Linked DNA regions of Homo sapiens: region 2 is linked to region 1. A link means that fine-mapping ties the variant in region 1 to the expression of a gene that starts in the linked region. Tissue or cell type: whole blood. Region 1 holds a variant in brackets; the other region holds the start of a gene. All regions are shown on one strand. Distances are from middle to middle.

Region 1 (8,183 bases):
GTCTTTATGAAACCGGTCCCTGGTGCCAAAAAGCTTGGGGACCACTGAGCTAGACTCGACAGTATTTTCCAAGGAATTAAAGCCTCAAAACTTGGTTTGAGATTTCAGGGTAGGTTGTTAAAAATCTGTGTGTTGAAATCTAAGATTTAATTCTGCCAAAGTTCACGTTAAGACAGAACAACCTGCTGGAAAGAGATTTGGTCTGAGTGGGGCCTGTGGAAATCTTCTTTCCTGACTTGGTCATTACCTGTGGGACCACTTCCTGAGCTGTGTGGTTTGGGTGATCTCAGATTTTTTCTATCTATAAAGCTATGTGCTTTTTTCTACTCACTGAGTTGTAGAAAGGTATCCGCTCTCATTCCATTCTGAAGCTCTTTGAAAGCTTGTTTTCCTTCTAAGTATCTTCTCTACTAAGGTTGCCAGATATAATAGGGGATGCTGGGCATGGCGGCTCACACCTGTGGTCTCAGCTACTCGGAGGGTGTTGGGGCTGAGGCAGGAGGATCCCTTGAGCTCAAGAGGTTGAGGCAGAGGTTGTGGTGAGCCAAGATCACGCCATTGCACTCCAGCCTGGGCGACAGAGTGAGACTCTGTCTCAAAAAACAAACAAACTTGCATAACTGAAAATTCAGAAGTAGTTGGCCATCTTGTATTTCTGTTTGGTAACTCTGGCAACACTACCCTCTACTCCCCACTTCTAATATAATTTTATAGCATCTCTGGCATACAGTCTATTTGGATCCGACCTAATGGTGCAATATTTTGTTTTCCTCAGAGGAGCCTCTGACCCATGTGAATCTAGGACCATAAACAATTAGAATGCTTGGGAGCAAGAGCTTTATATCTGCATATGGGAACTTCCGGATCCCTGTGGGCAAGTGCAGGGAGGGCCCCTTCTTCCATCTACTGAGCCATTTCCCAGGGGCTCGGGTGTGTATAGGAGGAAGAGGGCGAGTCAGGCATGTTAACAAACATTCTAGGTTATTCTTGGCAGTTTTGGAAACAGTTCTAAGGCTGTGGTTCTCAGACTTTATATCAGAATTGCCTGATTGCTGGGAACAGAGACTGATACAGTAGGTCTGATGGGGTGCCCAAGAGGTTGCATTCCTAAATTCTCATGCAGTTTTCTAATCAGGGAGCAGCTGGAAAGGTATTGTGAGCTTGAATGTACCTGGGAAACTACCTGGGGTCTTGGGAGATGCAAATGCTGGTTCAGAGGTCTGGCCCTCTGACACTCTGATGAGCATTTCTAACAGGCTCTCAGGTGACGGCCGTGCTCCTGGTCTGTGGACCACTTCAGTATGGCTGAAGCACAATAAAAGAGGGCAAATTACTGCTTTCTTTAAAAAGAGTGGCAGCCGGGCACAGTGGCTCACGCCTATAATCCTAGCACTTTGGGAGGCCAAGGCAGGTGGATCACTTGAAGTCAGGAGTTCCAGACCAGCCTGGCCAACATGGTGAAACTCTATCTCTACTAAAAATATAAACATTAGGCCAGGTGTGGTGGCAGGTGCCTGTAATCCCAGCTACTCGGGAGGCTGAGGCAGGAGAATCCCTTGAACCCAGGAGGCGGAGGCTGCAGTGAGCCAAGATCATGCCACTGCACTCCAGCCTGGGTGACAGAGAGAGACTCCCATCTCAAAATTTTTTTTTTTAAATGCAGAGGTTGGACTGCCTACCTATACTCTAATTTCTATTCTGGAGTGATTCTCTGGAGAGGCTAGGTAAAGACTGAAAAGGCATTGTTACGTCCACCTGTCATCTCACTTGGACAAGAATCCAGGAGAAACTATTGAACTGAGGTGACAAAGTTATGATCAATGTGGTGATCTGAGGTGTATTAAAACACTGAGCTCTTTCCCAGTCACAAACACTGCAAGGCAGGTGTTTCTAACAAAGCCTTAAGCTGATGTCGACATGCCCCACAATTCCTTGTCACTCACCAGCACATCCCCGCTGGCTCCATGCTAGAAGCAGGCAAGGAGCTGCAGGTGCGTATACGATGGAGGTGAGGGAGACAGTGCGCATGGAATGAATCAACTCAGTTTGGGAGCAGGGAGAACTTTATTGAGGTTATGAATATATTCTACTTGAAACTGGAAGGATAAGTGGTTATGAATTTGTGGCTTATGGTAACCTTTGTTAAGCATCTTTCTTTTTCTTTTTTTTTTTGGTGAGACACAGATTCACTCTTGTCCCCCAGGCTGGAGTGCAATGGCGTGATCTCGGCTCACTGCATCCTCTGCCTCCCAGGTTCAAGCGATTCTCGTACCTCAGCCTCCCGAGTAGCTGGGATTACAGGCATGTGCCAGCATGCTTGGCTAATTTTGTATTTTTAGTAGAGATGGGGTTTCACCGTGTTGCCAAGGCTGATCTCAAAACTCCTGACCTCAGGTGATCTGCCCGCCTCAGCCTCCCAAAGTGCTGGGATTACAGGCTTGAGCCACTGCGCCCGGCCTTTTTTTTTTTTTTTTTTTTTTTAATTATTGAGACGGAGCCTTGCGCTGTCACCGAGGCTGGAGTGCACTGGCACTGTCTTGGCTCACTGCAACCTCCGCCTCCCGGGTTCAAGCGATTCTCCTGCCTCAGCCTCCCAAGTAGCTGGGATTACAGGCATGTGCCACCATGCCCAGCTAATTTTTGTATTTTTAGTAGAGGTGAGGTTTCAGCATGTTGGCCAGGCTGGTCTTGAACTCCTGACCTTGTCATCCTCCCACCTTGGCCTCCCAAAGTGCTGGGATTACAGGCGTGAGCCACGACGGCCGGCTGTTATGCTCATCATGGCACTTAAGAGATGCTTAACAAACCTTTCCTACAATGTTCCTCAGATTTTCAGAGCTTATTTGATCTAGCATCTGGTTCCTAAATTCTGAGTCACATCAGAAGCCAAACTTGAATGCTTTTGGAAAGAGCTAGCCTCATACCACTTCAGTTGGGAAGGGGAGTACTGAGGTGTACCTTGGCAGGACAGTGGAATGATTGCTGGTTCTTCTAGTTTGCTCTATACCAAGAACTGCTATAACATGTTTCTAAACCAGGGCTATGCAAAGCACTAGAGTTCCTGACCAGCAATGCAAACCAGTGGCATACAAATTCAAAATACTGTATACAGGCCCTGACTCCAGCCCAAACCAAGGCTGGAGGGCATCCAGGGGGATGTGGTTCCCCACGGGGTAGCATCTTGGTTATGTGAGATCACCAAGACACCAAGCCTGTTTTATGAGCTGAATCCTCAGCTTGTTGCTGGATTTGTGGCTGATAAAAAATACAGGCAGGGCCCAGTGGCTCACGCCTGTAATCCCAACACTTTGGGAGGCTGAGGCAGGCAGACCACCTGAGGCCGGGAGTTTGAAACTAGCCTGGCCAACATGGTGAAATCCTGTATGTACTTAAAAATACAAAAATTACCCAGGCATATTGGTGAGTGCCTGTCATCCCAGCTACTCGGAAGGCTGAAGCAGGAGAATCGCTTGAATCTAGGAGGCTGCAGGTTGCAGTGAGCTGAGAAGGCGCCACTGCACTCCAGCCTGGGAGACGGAATCTCACTCTGTCAGTCACAACAACAACAAAAAAATAGAGCACAGCTATGTTTTGAGTTCTTAAGCAAGGGCAAGCTTACCAGGCACTTACAGAGAAGGTTGACGAGGATGACAGGGAACTAATTGGGGGAGGGATGCCATGGTTGAAAACATGGCTGGGGCAGCGAGAAGTTAAGATGAAGTCCCAAGAGTCGCAAGAACATGCAGTTCCAGGACGTGATTCTCTGCAGGGACAAAGAGAGACAGCAGCTACAAGTCTATAGGCAGTGACAAAGGATCTGAGATCCCATCAGAGTAGACTTCAAGTTGGAGAAAACTTTTATTGGCACAGGCATTCCTTGTTAACTTGACAGGGTGAAGCTGTAATTTTTCAAAAACAGTAAAAGCTGGTTTCTCCTAAACTATTTTCCTTGTGGTAGTAGAGATCAGTGGGTCAGAAACAACTCCTGACCACTTGGTTTCCTTTTGAGCCGCGTCATAAGGAGGCAATCTGTAAAACTAGCACAGGTCTCCCGCTGTTCCACTGGCTCACCCACATGATTAGCAGAGTGCACGAAAAAATAAAACTTCTATTAAAGAATCATGCTGAGCACAA[G/C]ATCAGAGAGGTTGTGACATTGCAAACTCGATAGATGCAGGGGGCCTGGGAGACTGGCGTTCTCCAAAGGGCTCCCAACACCGTCTCTCCTCTGATTTCTGTGACAAATGTGGAAAGCTACTTGCTTGGAGGTACTGGGGGAACTGATGGGGGAACTTTCATCCTGTTAGGAACTCCGCTTTCCATTCCTGCGTCTCTGTCTTGCTCCCTGGAGATGGATGGATCACGGAGGGGGCCACAGTCAGCTGGGGCAGCAGGTACTCCCTACGGCACTAGTCTACAGGGGGAAGGACGCTCTGTGCTGGCAGCGGTGGCTCACATGGCCTGTCTGCACTGTAACCACAGGCTGGGATGTAGCCAGGACTTGGTCTCCTTGGAAGACAGGTCTGATGTTTGGCCAATCCAGTCCTTCAGACCCTGTCTGAAACTTGTATCTTACGTGAACTTAAAGAATAAAATGCATTTCTACCCCGATCTCGCCCCCAGGACTGGCACGACAGGCCCACGGCAGATTAGATCTTTTCCCAGTACTGATCGGTGCGTGGAATTCCAGCCACCACTTCTGATTCGATTCCACAGTGATCCTGTCCTCTGAGTATTTTAAAGAAGCCTGGGAATAAAAAGTAAGGTGCTTTTAAAGTGTGACAAGGGTCAACCAATATAGTCAGACTCATCCTTAAAAGACCTTAAGTCACTCATCCCTGGCCACTCCTGCTGTTGGCCCACTAGCACAGTCCTCAACACCACAAGGCTTCTGGAGCCGTGGGGCACACCTCCACGGGCAAGCCCCCTGCCCGGTCACCCTTCCCATCACAGGATCTGGCGCGATGCTGTGGGAACTGTTGCAGGCGTTGGCTCTGAAGCTGCTCAGAGTCTGCCCTCACAGCAAAAGGGAACTCCTGACTGCCTGGCACTTAGGAGGAGCTCACAGCCTGGCCGTAGGTCCAGGGTTTAAGGCTGTGCGGTGGGTAGAACAGAGAAAGCCGAGATGGCCACGGGGTGTGGCTCACAATTCACTGTTCTTGGCAGGAAGGGGGCAGCCACTCACCATTGTCACCCCAGTCAGTGTTCCAGGAGTTGGCAACCAGCCAGTAGGGTGTGCCATTCTCCACTCCCCAGCCCAGGATGCGGATGGCATGGCCACCCATCATCTCTCCGGTGACGTGTTGGTACACTCCTGAAAAGGGAAGAACTGGCTGAGACCGAGACCGGGCCACTGTCCCACGCCCCACAGCACCCCCCACACTCAGCTGGTCATGCTCCGGGAAGGAGAAACAGCTTCCAGAGGGAACCTGCTGCTCCACCAGGAGGCTCCAGGGGGGGTCCCACAATACTGGGGAATTAAATATATTTTTGAAGGCCCAACACACTCAAAGTTGTTGAGTAAATATTGAAATAGATTCCTACAAAATGTGCTTGTTGGCTTTAAAAATAGAATTTCTAATACATTCTAATTGATAAAACATTTAATGCTAGATGACTGATTCATCTGTTCTTTATACTGGGATTCCATGTAAGTAAGGGTTTGTCAAAAGCGTTACACGGCTTAAAGAGTTTTAATAGCTGCTCCAGGTACACCCTGAAGAGGTGAGGGAGGAGAAGGGAGGACTGGTGGCAGCTAATGCTAGCTGATGGGAAAGATACTGGCTAAGGGGCTCAGGGCTGCCCAACCAGGCTCTCGGGTGGGGAAATCACTGTCAAAGTGGAAATGCATCTTTTAATAATAAGGGCGAGGACTATGCTAAGAAGTGCCATCTTCACAGAAACTTTTTCTTGCCAGAATCATCTTCCTTTGTCAAACTGTTGTTTTACAAGTTTCCAATCTAGCAAAATATTAATGGGATAGATGCAGTCAGCAAAGACTGTTCATCTGGAGCAAGGGATTTCTAAGACAGGACTTGGGGATGGGGACTGTCCAGATTCCTTGGTTGGAGTCCCTATGGCACTACCCAGGGCAAGGTCCTCCCTGTGTGTTCATCCACTGGTGTGAGGCACGATCTAGGCCTTTGCAAAGAGAAAGATGAAGAAAATGTGTCAGCCAGTGCAAACACGAACGGCCTGCCATTATAACAGAAACATGCTGGTAAAGCAATGCAAAGCCAGGAAGGCGAGGGCAGGCGTGGCCAGCCACCAGGGAGGGGGGCGTTCCCACAGAGAACATGTATGAGCTGGACGCTAATGGATGGGAAGGAACTAGCCCAGAGGCTCTGGGAGAGGCCTCTGGAATTGTGTGTGTTGGCACAACACCTGGACAAAGACAGTCAGGTGCCAGGCTGGTCCACAGAGGAGTGAGCCTATATGGAAGGCCCCACACAGCCCTCTTCCCCAGCCCCTCACCTGCCTGCCCAATCCAGCCCTATTGGTCAACATGAACCATCCTGGCACCCAGGCTCCCCTCCCGACCCCCACCCTCTATTGCCATCAGCCATCAGCACGCACCTGACTTGTAGAGCAGGAAGTCCGAATACACAGAGAAAGCTCCCTCCACGGGGCCGTTTTTGTAGATCTCGGCCATGATGTCCTTCTCGCTATTGGAGACGCTGTAGGAATTGTATCCTGGAAAATGAACCGAGCTCGGGGTTGGGGAGGGCAGTGACCGTGCCTCGTGGCACGCCACGGTCAGCCAGTCACTGATTTCTGGTGGCCTCCAGGGGAAGACTGCATCTAAGGGGACTTGCCCTGCCAGGGGAGCTCAAGGAAGGCTCCCCTGAAGAACTAAGGACAGGGCTGGGGCTGGAAGCTCAGAAATGGGAGAACGGAGCAATGAGCACGAGGCCCCGGAAGAGGCCAGGATACCTCAAGACTCCAGGACACGCCACTCCCTTGTAAAAGGAGGGCTTTGGTCCCTTCCAGTTTGGAAGGGCTGAGGCTGAGTTCAGGGTGGAACAGGCAGAAAGTGGAGAGTGTGCTGCTTCTCCTGGCAAGAGGGCATCACTCCCCCTCCTCTATCCTAGAGTTCCGGGACCCCAAGGCTCCTCAGCCCTGACCTCTTCGCTGCAGCGTGAGGAGGGATGCAGCAGCTCCCCAGCCTCCACGTGCGCCGTGGCCAGGCCCCAGGCCCCTTACCGTAGTGCTTGTCCTGTTTGTAGGTCGGGCTGTAGCCAGGCTCACAGATCTTGCTACACTTGGGGGTATCTCCCTCCCCCGTGCATGGGGGCCGGGAGCCGTTGACGTGGTGCTCACAGGGAGGGATGGAGTACGGTCTGCACCCTGATGGGACGCGGGAGAAAGCGGAGTCAACCTACAGCCCCCACGGAGAAGACCTGGGGCAAGGCAAGCCTCGTGCCTGCAGCATGGACGCCAGGCAGGTCCTGCCAGAGGCCTGTGCACCTGGCTAGCACCTCTCAGCAGCCCCTCTGTCTCAACCCCCAGTTTATAAAGGCAAATAAAGCCATGATGGTTAATTGCTCAAACAATCCATCTGGCCAGAAAGTGGCCAAGGGGACACACTTACCTACATGGGATTCATAGAGGCCACCAGAAACCAGGCCTTTTCTTGTCCAGAAGTTCCAAGCTTCAGCAGGATAGCCACCATTACAGCTGAAAAGACAGCCTCTAATGAAAACCTCTGAGAGAAGCACCACCAGCTCTCCAGACCACTGTGTGCTACCCAAGTGCCCGAGGCCACTCGTGGACCCACCCCCAGCTGCAGCAAGTGGTGCGAGCAGACCTCCCAGACCCCAAACCCTCCAAGGGACGCTCCCTAGATAAGCACAGCTTGCAGGGAATAACCGCCAGCCCCACCCCTGCCCACAAAGATCCGGGAGAAGACAGGAGGCTCTCCTGTTCATGTCCATACCAGACCAGGCTACGAGTGCCCTTCCGGGTAGAACACTGATTCTCAACTGAGCAGACGCTAAACTTCCCTAAGGTACTTAAAAACACCACCAGTTCTCTGAAATGAGAATCGCCAGTGATTCCCATTTAACTAGTTAGGGGAGAAGCCCATGCATTTTTTTAAGCCCTCAGGCATTTCGGATCTGCAGCCGCCAGTGAACACCGCTACTGCGGAACCAAGGCGAGGCTGCAGGCAGCTGGAGCAGAAAGTT
Region 2 (8,167 bases), 25 kb after region 1:
TTCTCAGGCAGCCTGGGACCAGACGTAGAGACTGCTGCCTGCCACCCTGATATCCCAGAGGCACAGCACATCTGTACATGCCTCCCCTAGACTCAACTGCCTGTCACCCCAACCATCTCCCTTTACATGGACCATGTGGAAGTGCCCAGTAAATATCACTCAACCGCACATGTTTCCAATAATTTCCTTAGGCCAGACCATTGAAAAGAGGCAGCAGACTGGGCGCAGTGGCTCATACCTGTAATCCCAGCGCTTTGGGAGGCCGAGGTGGGCGGATCACGAGGTCAGGAGTTCGAGACCAGCCTGGCCAACGTGGCAAAACCCCCACATTGGGATTTTTTTACATTGGATTTTTTTAGGAGAGACAAAAAATCTCTACTAAAAATAAAAAAATTAGCTGAGTGTGGAGGCACATGCCTGTAATCGCAGCTAGTTGAGAGACTGAGGCAGGAGAATGGCTTGAACACAGGAAGCGGAGTTGCAGTGAGCTGAGATCTTGCCACTGCACTCCAGCCTGGGTGAGAGAGTCAGACTCCACCTCAAAAAAAAAAAGGAGAGAGAGAAAAGAAGAATCGACATACCTGTAACTCCTCCCTCTCAATGTTTCAGTCCATATCTCGAAAGGACGGTATGTTACTCTACACAACCACAACTCATTACCAGATTTAAGAAAATTACCCCTCCACCGCGCGGTGGCTCATGCCTGTAATCCTACCACTTTGGGAGGCTGAGGCGGATCACTTGAGATCAGGAGTTCGAAAACCAGCCTGGCTAACATGGTGAAAGCCCGTCTCTACTAAAAATACAAAAAAAAAAAAAAAAGCCAGGTGTGGTGATGGGCACTGGCAATCCCAGCTACTTGGGAGGGAGGCTGAGACAGGAGAATTGCTTCAACATGAGAGGCGGAGGTGGCAGTGAACCGAGATCGCACCACTGCACTCCAGCCTGAGCGATAGAGGGAGTGTGTCTCAAAAAAAAAAAAAAAAGAAAGAAAAAGAAATTAAGAAAGAAAAGAAAATCACTGACAGACATCCCAAGGCACCCCTGAAACGTGACCTCCCTTCAATTCACTTCCCAATCCAACCAAGAGCAACAGAAAATATCTGTTACCCCTAAAATGGGTGCAACTTCTCTTCCAACTCCCAGGTCCAGCAGCTGGGGAAAGAAAAGAACCTGCCTACAAAAAGAGCCTCCCCAGTCTGCTAAATCAGCACCACATGGGCAGTTTCAACCTGGAACCAAAGGGCCACCACCCCTCACCGCCTAACCAGTTGGAAACAGGGCTGTCCTGAGCCAACACCCAGGAGAGCTGTGCCAGGGCCGTGTCTGGCCTGCGTTGCCACCTGGGGAGCAAGGGACCTGTGCCTTTCCACCAGGGGGTACCCCCAGCTAGAGGACAAATGACCAAAGACGAAGGGAAGCCTCTGTTCTCCAGGAGACGTTTGACTCTGTCTTTGGGAAAGCTACACAGGGTGGGCGGCCCAGCCCCTTTCTCCAGGAGCTGGCGGGTTCTAAGTCACCAGCACCAGAGCCAACAAGAAACAGTTCTTGGCCAGGCACCGTGACTCACCGGGAGGCCGAGACAGGCGGATCACCTGAGGTCAGGAGGTCAAGATCTGCCTGGTCAACATGGTGAAACCCCATCTCTACTAAAAATACAAAAATTAGCTGGGCGTGGTGGCGGGCACCTGTAATCCCAGCTACTCGGGAGGCTGAGGCAGGAGAATAGCTTGAATTTGGGAGGCGGAAGTTGTAGTGAGCCGAGATCGCGCCACTGTGCTCCAGCCTGAGAGACAGAGCCAGCCAACGCCCTCTTAGGCCTCTTCGCCTTACGTTCCTGAACGTTTGGATTCAAAGAGAGTGCATCTCAGCTATCCTCTCCTCCGGCAGCAGGCAGTGGGAATGTTTTTCCAGGCTACAAAAAGGTGCCAGGTCTGCATTTGAACCCCACAGCGTCACTTCTCCAGTGGGTTTGGGGGGTCTCTCGTCCGTTAGGAGGAGGAGTGTGGGGCCTGCGCTAGGGTCCTTTTCTTTGCCAGCCTGCTGGCTTTCTCAGCGCCTGGGAAGGGGGTGACAGAGGCCCACCAGGAAGCCAAGTGCAATTCACTTCCACCTGGGTCGCCCACCCCAGCCTGCCTGCAACGCCCCACACCCAGCACCCACTGCTCCCCAGAGGCCAACTCCCCCCGGCCTCCAGGGCTACTAACCGAGGGGGAGGTGGCGCCCCAGGGACTCTGCCCGGCCTCCCTTTACTGGAGTCCAGGAGCAGGGTGCGCCCCCGGCCTTCTCCCCACCGGCATCCAATCGCCCATTCGCCTCTTGGTTTCGCTGTCTGGTTTCTCTTCCTGTTTATGGATTTAACACCGTGCGGCTTCCTCCCCAGCCCACCCAGTGCCAGATTCCTGTTCTTCAACAGGACCTGTCTTCTGGGGTCCCAGGAATTGCGTGGGATCTTGCGCAGAAAGTTGGCCAGGCAAATCCTTCGCAATGAGGGGGAAATAAACCGAAAATAGATGCCGGCAGATGCGATTATGTCGGCAGTTTGGCCCGGAGACACCGAGGCCCAGGCGCTGGGAGCGCGGTCCCAGGCAGCAGTCTCCGGACCCGGCCGAGCTCTTCCTCGCAGGCGCCTCCCTCGGCGGTCCTGGCCGCGTCCCCGCTCCGAGGGCCGGGGTCCGGCGCACAGCCCGGGGAGGGGAGCGGAGGGCAGAGGGCTGGCGGGCGGAGCTGTTTTCTGCTTTTCTCGCCGACGCTTCGGAGCGCGCGGACTCCCACCCCAGCCCGCCCGTCAGGGACAGTCCCGAGGGTCCCGGCTCCCCGCCGGCCCCCAGGGACGCCGCGGGGCCGCGCCTGGGCCCGACTGAGGGCGCAGAGGAACCCGTCTCGGCGGCCGGGTAGCACCGTCCCCGCCAAGGTCACTTACGCTGCGGTGGCCCCGGGTCCCCAGCACTCACCCAGCGCTGCAGCCGAGAGCCTGCAGCCCAGCCTGCGCGCAGCGGAGCGGTTGGCGTTGCCGGAGCGGTTGCCGGAGCCCTGCAGCCGCCGTAGCCTGGGCCAGCCCCGGCCCTAAGTACCCTCCCGGCCCCGCCCCACGTGACCACCGCGCAGCCCCGCCCGGGCCCTCCCGCCGCCCGCGCACGGTGCTTCCCAGCCCCCACCCCCTCCCGCCACCTTCCGCCGCCCGCGCTCCCCGCTTCCCGGCCCCGCACACCCCCCGCCCCCTTCCGCTCGGGGTCCGGGGCCACCGCCGGGGGCGGGCGGGGGCCTGAGCGCGCGGGCTGGGGAAGAAGGGCTTGGAGCCCTGCGGGCCCTGGGTGGCGAAACGCTGCGAATTGGGGCCAGGGGATGGGGAAAAAGCCCCTAAAGGTGGTCCCAAGGCCCCCACCCCGCCTAGAAAAGTCCCCCCGCCTCGCGGGACCGCCTCCGCCAGAACCCGCGCCTGGGATCCCTGCCTGCCGAGTTGGCGGGGGTGGGGTGGTGGAGAGGGCGCCGTCGCTTATTTCATTCATTCAGAAGCCGCTGCAGAGGCTGGGGGTGGCGAGGCTGTGGACCCCACAGAACAGCCTTTAGAAGGGCCACTTTGTTGTTCAGAGAACGTACCCACAAAACACTACAGCTACGTACAAATAGAAAAGAGTGGCTGTCACTGCGAAGGAACCTAGGAGCTGCGTCAGGATTTCTAAGAGGAGAAGGACCTTGGGGGCGGAAATCGGTTTGGCACAGGAGTACCCGGAGACCTGCTCCGAGAGGACGGACAAAGTGCACATTTACTTGGGGTTTATTACCGGGAGGCCCTGGAAGGGAGATGCAGGGGTTGGCTCAAGACTCACCCTCCTCCAGACACTCCCCAAACAGCTTTAATCCTTAAGACAAACCTGCAAAGCAGGCATGACCCCAGTTGTATTCAAGAGGCTCAGAGGGGCTGGGTTCGGTGGCTCACGCCTGTAATCCCAGCATTTTGGGAGGCCGAGGCCGGTGAGTCACCTGAGGTCGGGAGTTCGAGACCATCCTGACCAACATGGAGAAACCCCGTCTCTACTAAAAATACAAAACTAGCCGGGCGTGGTGGCGCGTGTCAGTAATCCCAGCTACTCGGGAGACTGAAGCAGGAGAATCGCTTGAACCCGGGAGGCGGAGGTTGCGGTGACCAGAGATCGCACTATTGCACTCCAGCCTAGGCAACAAGAGTGAAACTCTGTATTAAAAAAAAAAAAAAGGCTCAGAAGAATCGTATTTTATCCAGGCTGTGGCGACAGTAAGAAGGCAGTAGCCGGGTGCAGTGGCTCACGCCTGTAATCCCAGCACTTTGGGAGGCCGAGGCGGGCGGATCACGAGGTCAGGAGATCAAGATTATCCTGGCTAACACGGTGAAACCCCGTCTCTAGTAAAAATACAAAAAATTAGCCGGGCGTGGTGGCGGGCGCCTGTAGTCCCAGCTACTCGGGAGGCGGAGGCAGGAGAATGGCGTGAACCCGTGAGCTGAGATCGTGCCACTGCACTCCAGCCTGGGCGAAAAGCGAGACTCCGCCTCAAAAAAAAAAAAAAAAAAAAAAAAAAAGGCAGTAGGACTGCATGGGACCTGGTTCCCTGCAGCCTGGTCGTCAGCTGTCACACAGCCCTGAGCCTGTCTTCAGAGACATGCCTGTACTCCCGCCTGGTTAGTAACAAACTAAGGATAGGAGTGGAAGGAAAAAATAATCTCTGGAGCCCAAACATGGTCACTAAGCCCCCAGCAGAGTGGGATACCCGAGGAACTGAGGACCAGGAGGCTGGAGGTCAAGGTGGTCCCAACTGCCTGCTCACCCTAGTCATATCCTGACAGCCATGGACTCTGGACTCCAAATCATTTCAGACCTCTATAAGGAGCTCATAAGATGGCCAAAATGGGGAGGACACAGCCAGAACCAGGATAACTCTCCCCTCTCTCATCCTTAGAGTGTGACAGAAGGTATGCAGAGCAGAGTGCTTGACATGCGTTATGGCTATTTGATGGAATTTTCCATCAGTGTCATTATAGAAATCACTTTTGAGAGGTAAAAATCACTTTTGAAACAAAAGAAACAGGCTAGGCGCGGTGGTTCACCACTGTAATCCTAGCACTTTGGGAGGCTGAGGCAGGCAGATCACCTGAGGTCGGGAGTTCCAGACCAGCCTGGCCCAAATGGTGAAACCCAGTCTCTACTAAAAATACAAAAATTAGCTGGGCGTGGTGGTTCACGCGCCTGTAATCCCAGCTACTTGAGAGGCTGAGGCAGGAGAATCGCTTGAGCCCGGGAGGTGGAGGTTGCGGTGAGCCAAAATCACGCCATTGCACTCCAACCCGGGCAAGATTCCATCTCAAAAGAAAAGAAAAGAAAAAAAGAAATAGGCCAGGCGCAGTGGCTCACGCCTGTAATCCCAGCACTTTGGGAGGCCAAGGCAGGCGGATCACGACGTTGGAAGTTCAAGACCAGCCTGGCCAACATGGTGAAACCCCGTCTCTACTAAAAATACAAAAATTAGCTGGGTGTGGCATTGCGGGCCTGTAATCCCAGCTACTCGAGCGCTGAGGCAGGAGGATCCCTTGAACCAGGGAGTCAGAGGTTGTAGTGAGCCGAGATCACGCCATTGCACTCCAACATGGGCAAGACTCCTCAAAAGACAAGAAAAGAAATATATTACTACCAGAGTAGAATTCGTCCCTTCCTGGAACATCCAGGAAAGCTTCATGGAGAAAGGAACATACAGCATATTTACTTGTATATGTTCCTTCCTGCCCTCACTGGATCTTAAGCCCCACCCAGGCAAGCATTTTTACCTGCGGTGTTCCCCTGCTTCATCCCAGCTCATTGCAGGGTGTCTGGCCCATAGCAGAGGATAGAGAAATGTGAGTTGAGTGGATGCATAATGAATGAAGTAGGCCTTGAAGTTGAGGAGAATTTTGGCTTAACCTGCTAGATTTGGGGGTCAGGGTTCAGGGCCTGGGGAACAGCTCTCAGAACTTACAGAGAGGCCTTGACTCACGTGTGTAAAAGCTGTTTGCTTGTTGAACATCCGTAAAAGAGGCCTAAGTTAACACCTGAAAGAGGTGAAAACATACGTCCTCACAAAAATCCGCCGGGCACAGTGGGCTCACGCCTGTAATCCCAGCACTTTGGGAGGCAGAGGTGGGTGGATTACTTAAGCCTAGGAGTTCAAGACCAGCCTGGGGAACATAGTGAGACCCCAACTCTAAAACAAAAGTTAATAACGTATGTATAAACTTACACCAGATGTTTATAGCAGCATTATTTACAGTAACCAAAAGGTGAAAACAACTCAAATGTCCATCCATTAAAAACCATTGCACGAATAAACAAACTGTCATAAATCCACCAAATGGAGTTTTATTCAGTCGTAAAAAGGAATGAAGTAGTCACACATGCTACAACATCGATAAACCTTGAAAACGTTTACTAAGTAAAATCAGCCAGGTCCAAAGGACTCAGTATTGTATGATTCCGTGAAATCCACATGGGAGGTTAGGTAGGTGACAGCTAAAGGGTGTGGGGTTTCTCTGGGGGCTAATATGAATTTTTTTTTTTTGCCGAGACAGAGTCTCGCTCTGTCGCCCAGGCTGGAGTGCAGTGGTGCGATATCGCCTCACTGCAACCTCCGCCTCCCGAGTTCAAGCAATTCTGCCTCAGCCTCCTGAGTAGCTGGGGTTACAGGCACCCGCCACCACACTCCCCTAATTTTTGTATTTTTAGTAGAGACAGGGTTTCACCATGTTGGCCAGGCTGGTCTCGAACTCCTGACCTCGTGATCCACCTGCCTCGGCCCCCCAAAGTGCTGGGATTACAGGCGTGAGCCACAGGGCCCAGCCTAATTTTGTATTTTTTGTAGAGACGGTGTTTTCCCATGTTGCCCAGGCTGATCTCAAGCTCTTGAGCTCAAATGATCCTGCTGTCTCCGCCTCTCAAAGTGCTAGGATTACAGGTGTGAGCCACCTCGCCCAGCCTGATTTAACTTTTTAATTTTTAAAAATTATCCTTGAATACGCTACAGTGCCCAACTATTCAGTGTTGAAATGAACTGGATTTCTTATTTGGCTGTGATTGTTTCCAGTATTTTCAGAAATATGTCTCCATTCCTATCTAAACTCTAAGTTGGTTGGTGTAGGGTGCTGTCTTATTCATTTCTATTTCTCCTTCCTCTCTTCTCAAAGGACTTTCGTGCCCTTTACCCCTCCTTCCAGCAGGGAGGTATGAGCCGTGCCTCTGGGCTCCTTCTTCTTCCTCCCGACAGCTCCCTTTCTGTGGTGTGACTGTCATCAGAGGGAGGGAAATTACAGTGCCTTGGCTTCAGAGAACTAAGTTTCTGGTTCTAGCCTTATGAGGGCTGACCACATTGTTTTTTTTTTTTTTCTATTGGCTTCCAGAAGGATTCCTCTTTATTCTCCTACAGTGTCTCCTTTGTGGCTTATCCTACTGCGAGAGCACTTGTTTAACTGCGAGCAAAAGAGATGGCTGCTCCTCTAATACCGGTGGGGGCCTCGACTTTCACATGAACTCCCTCGGAAGGGAAGCCATGTCTGCAGCCAGGGTCTCAGCAGATGTCCACAGCCCCCAAAGCTTTGCCTCCAGAGGCCACCACTTCCCACCATTTCTGTTTCTGGTGGGGCCCCTTCAATTCTAACTATGGCCTCCCCACCACAGAAGAGCAGGGTTTACTCACTTGTCCTCTTCCATGAAGAGCAAATGTATTATCTCACTTGGGGTTTCAGTTGCCCTTGTAGTTTTATTTATTTTTATTTTTCATTTATTTAATTAAAAAAAAAGTTTGAGACAGGGTCTCGCTCTGTCACCCAGGCTGGAGTGCAGTGGCAGGATCTTGGCTCACGGCAACCTTCACCTCCCGGGCTCAAGCAATCCTCCCACCTCAGCCTCTGGACTACCTGGGATCACAGACGCATACAACCATGCCTGGCTGTTGTTTTTTATTTTATTTTTACAGATACTGGGTCTTGCCATGTTGTCCAGGTTGGACTCAAATTCCTGGGCTCAAGCAGTGTGCCCGCCTTGCCCTCCCAAAATGCTGGGATTACAGGCATGAGCCACCACACCCAGACCTTGAATACAGTCACATTCTGAGGTACTAGGGGTTAGGGTTTCAACATACAAACTTTTGGGGGCCTAATTCAGCCCAT

The links. PIP is the estimated chance that this variant, and not a neighbour inherited with it, causes the effect.
Region 2: CTSB starts here. The variant in region 1 is fine-mapped to the expression of CTSB in whole blood (TOPMed, PIP above 0.99). The same link has a PIP of 0.9 or more in cerebellar hemisphere, cerebellum, cerebral cortex and prefrontal cortex.

The regions. Positions count from the first base shown.
Region 1 is chr8:11,840,479-11,848,661 of GRCh38, forward strand. CTSB (cathepsin B) reads right to left here. Exons shown (of 10, transcript NM_001908.5): 6 at 7,589-7,674; 7 at 7,201-7,344; 8 at 6,574-6,690; 9 at 5,183-5,311; 10 at 2,046-4,744. The coding sequence ends at 4,647. Among named protein-coding and RNA genes, the nearest start is that of CTSB, 24 kb to the right of the region's middle. RefSeq lists an enhancer at 7,652-8,183. The variant G/C (reference allele first, on the strand shown) is at 4,135.
Region 2 is chr8:11,865,047-11,873,213 of GRCh38, forward strand. It overlaps CTSB (cathepsin B), which reads right to left and starts at 3,041. Exons shown (of 10, transcript NM_001908.5): 1 at 2,955-3,041. RefSeq lists an enhancer at 2,305-2,514 and silencers at 2,605-2,934, 3,075-3,194.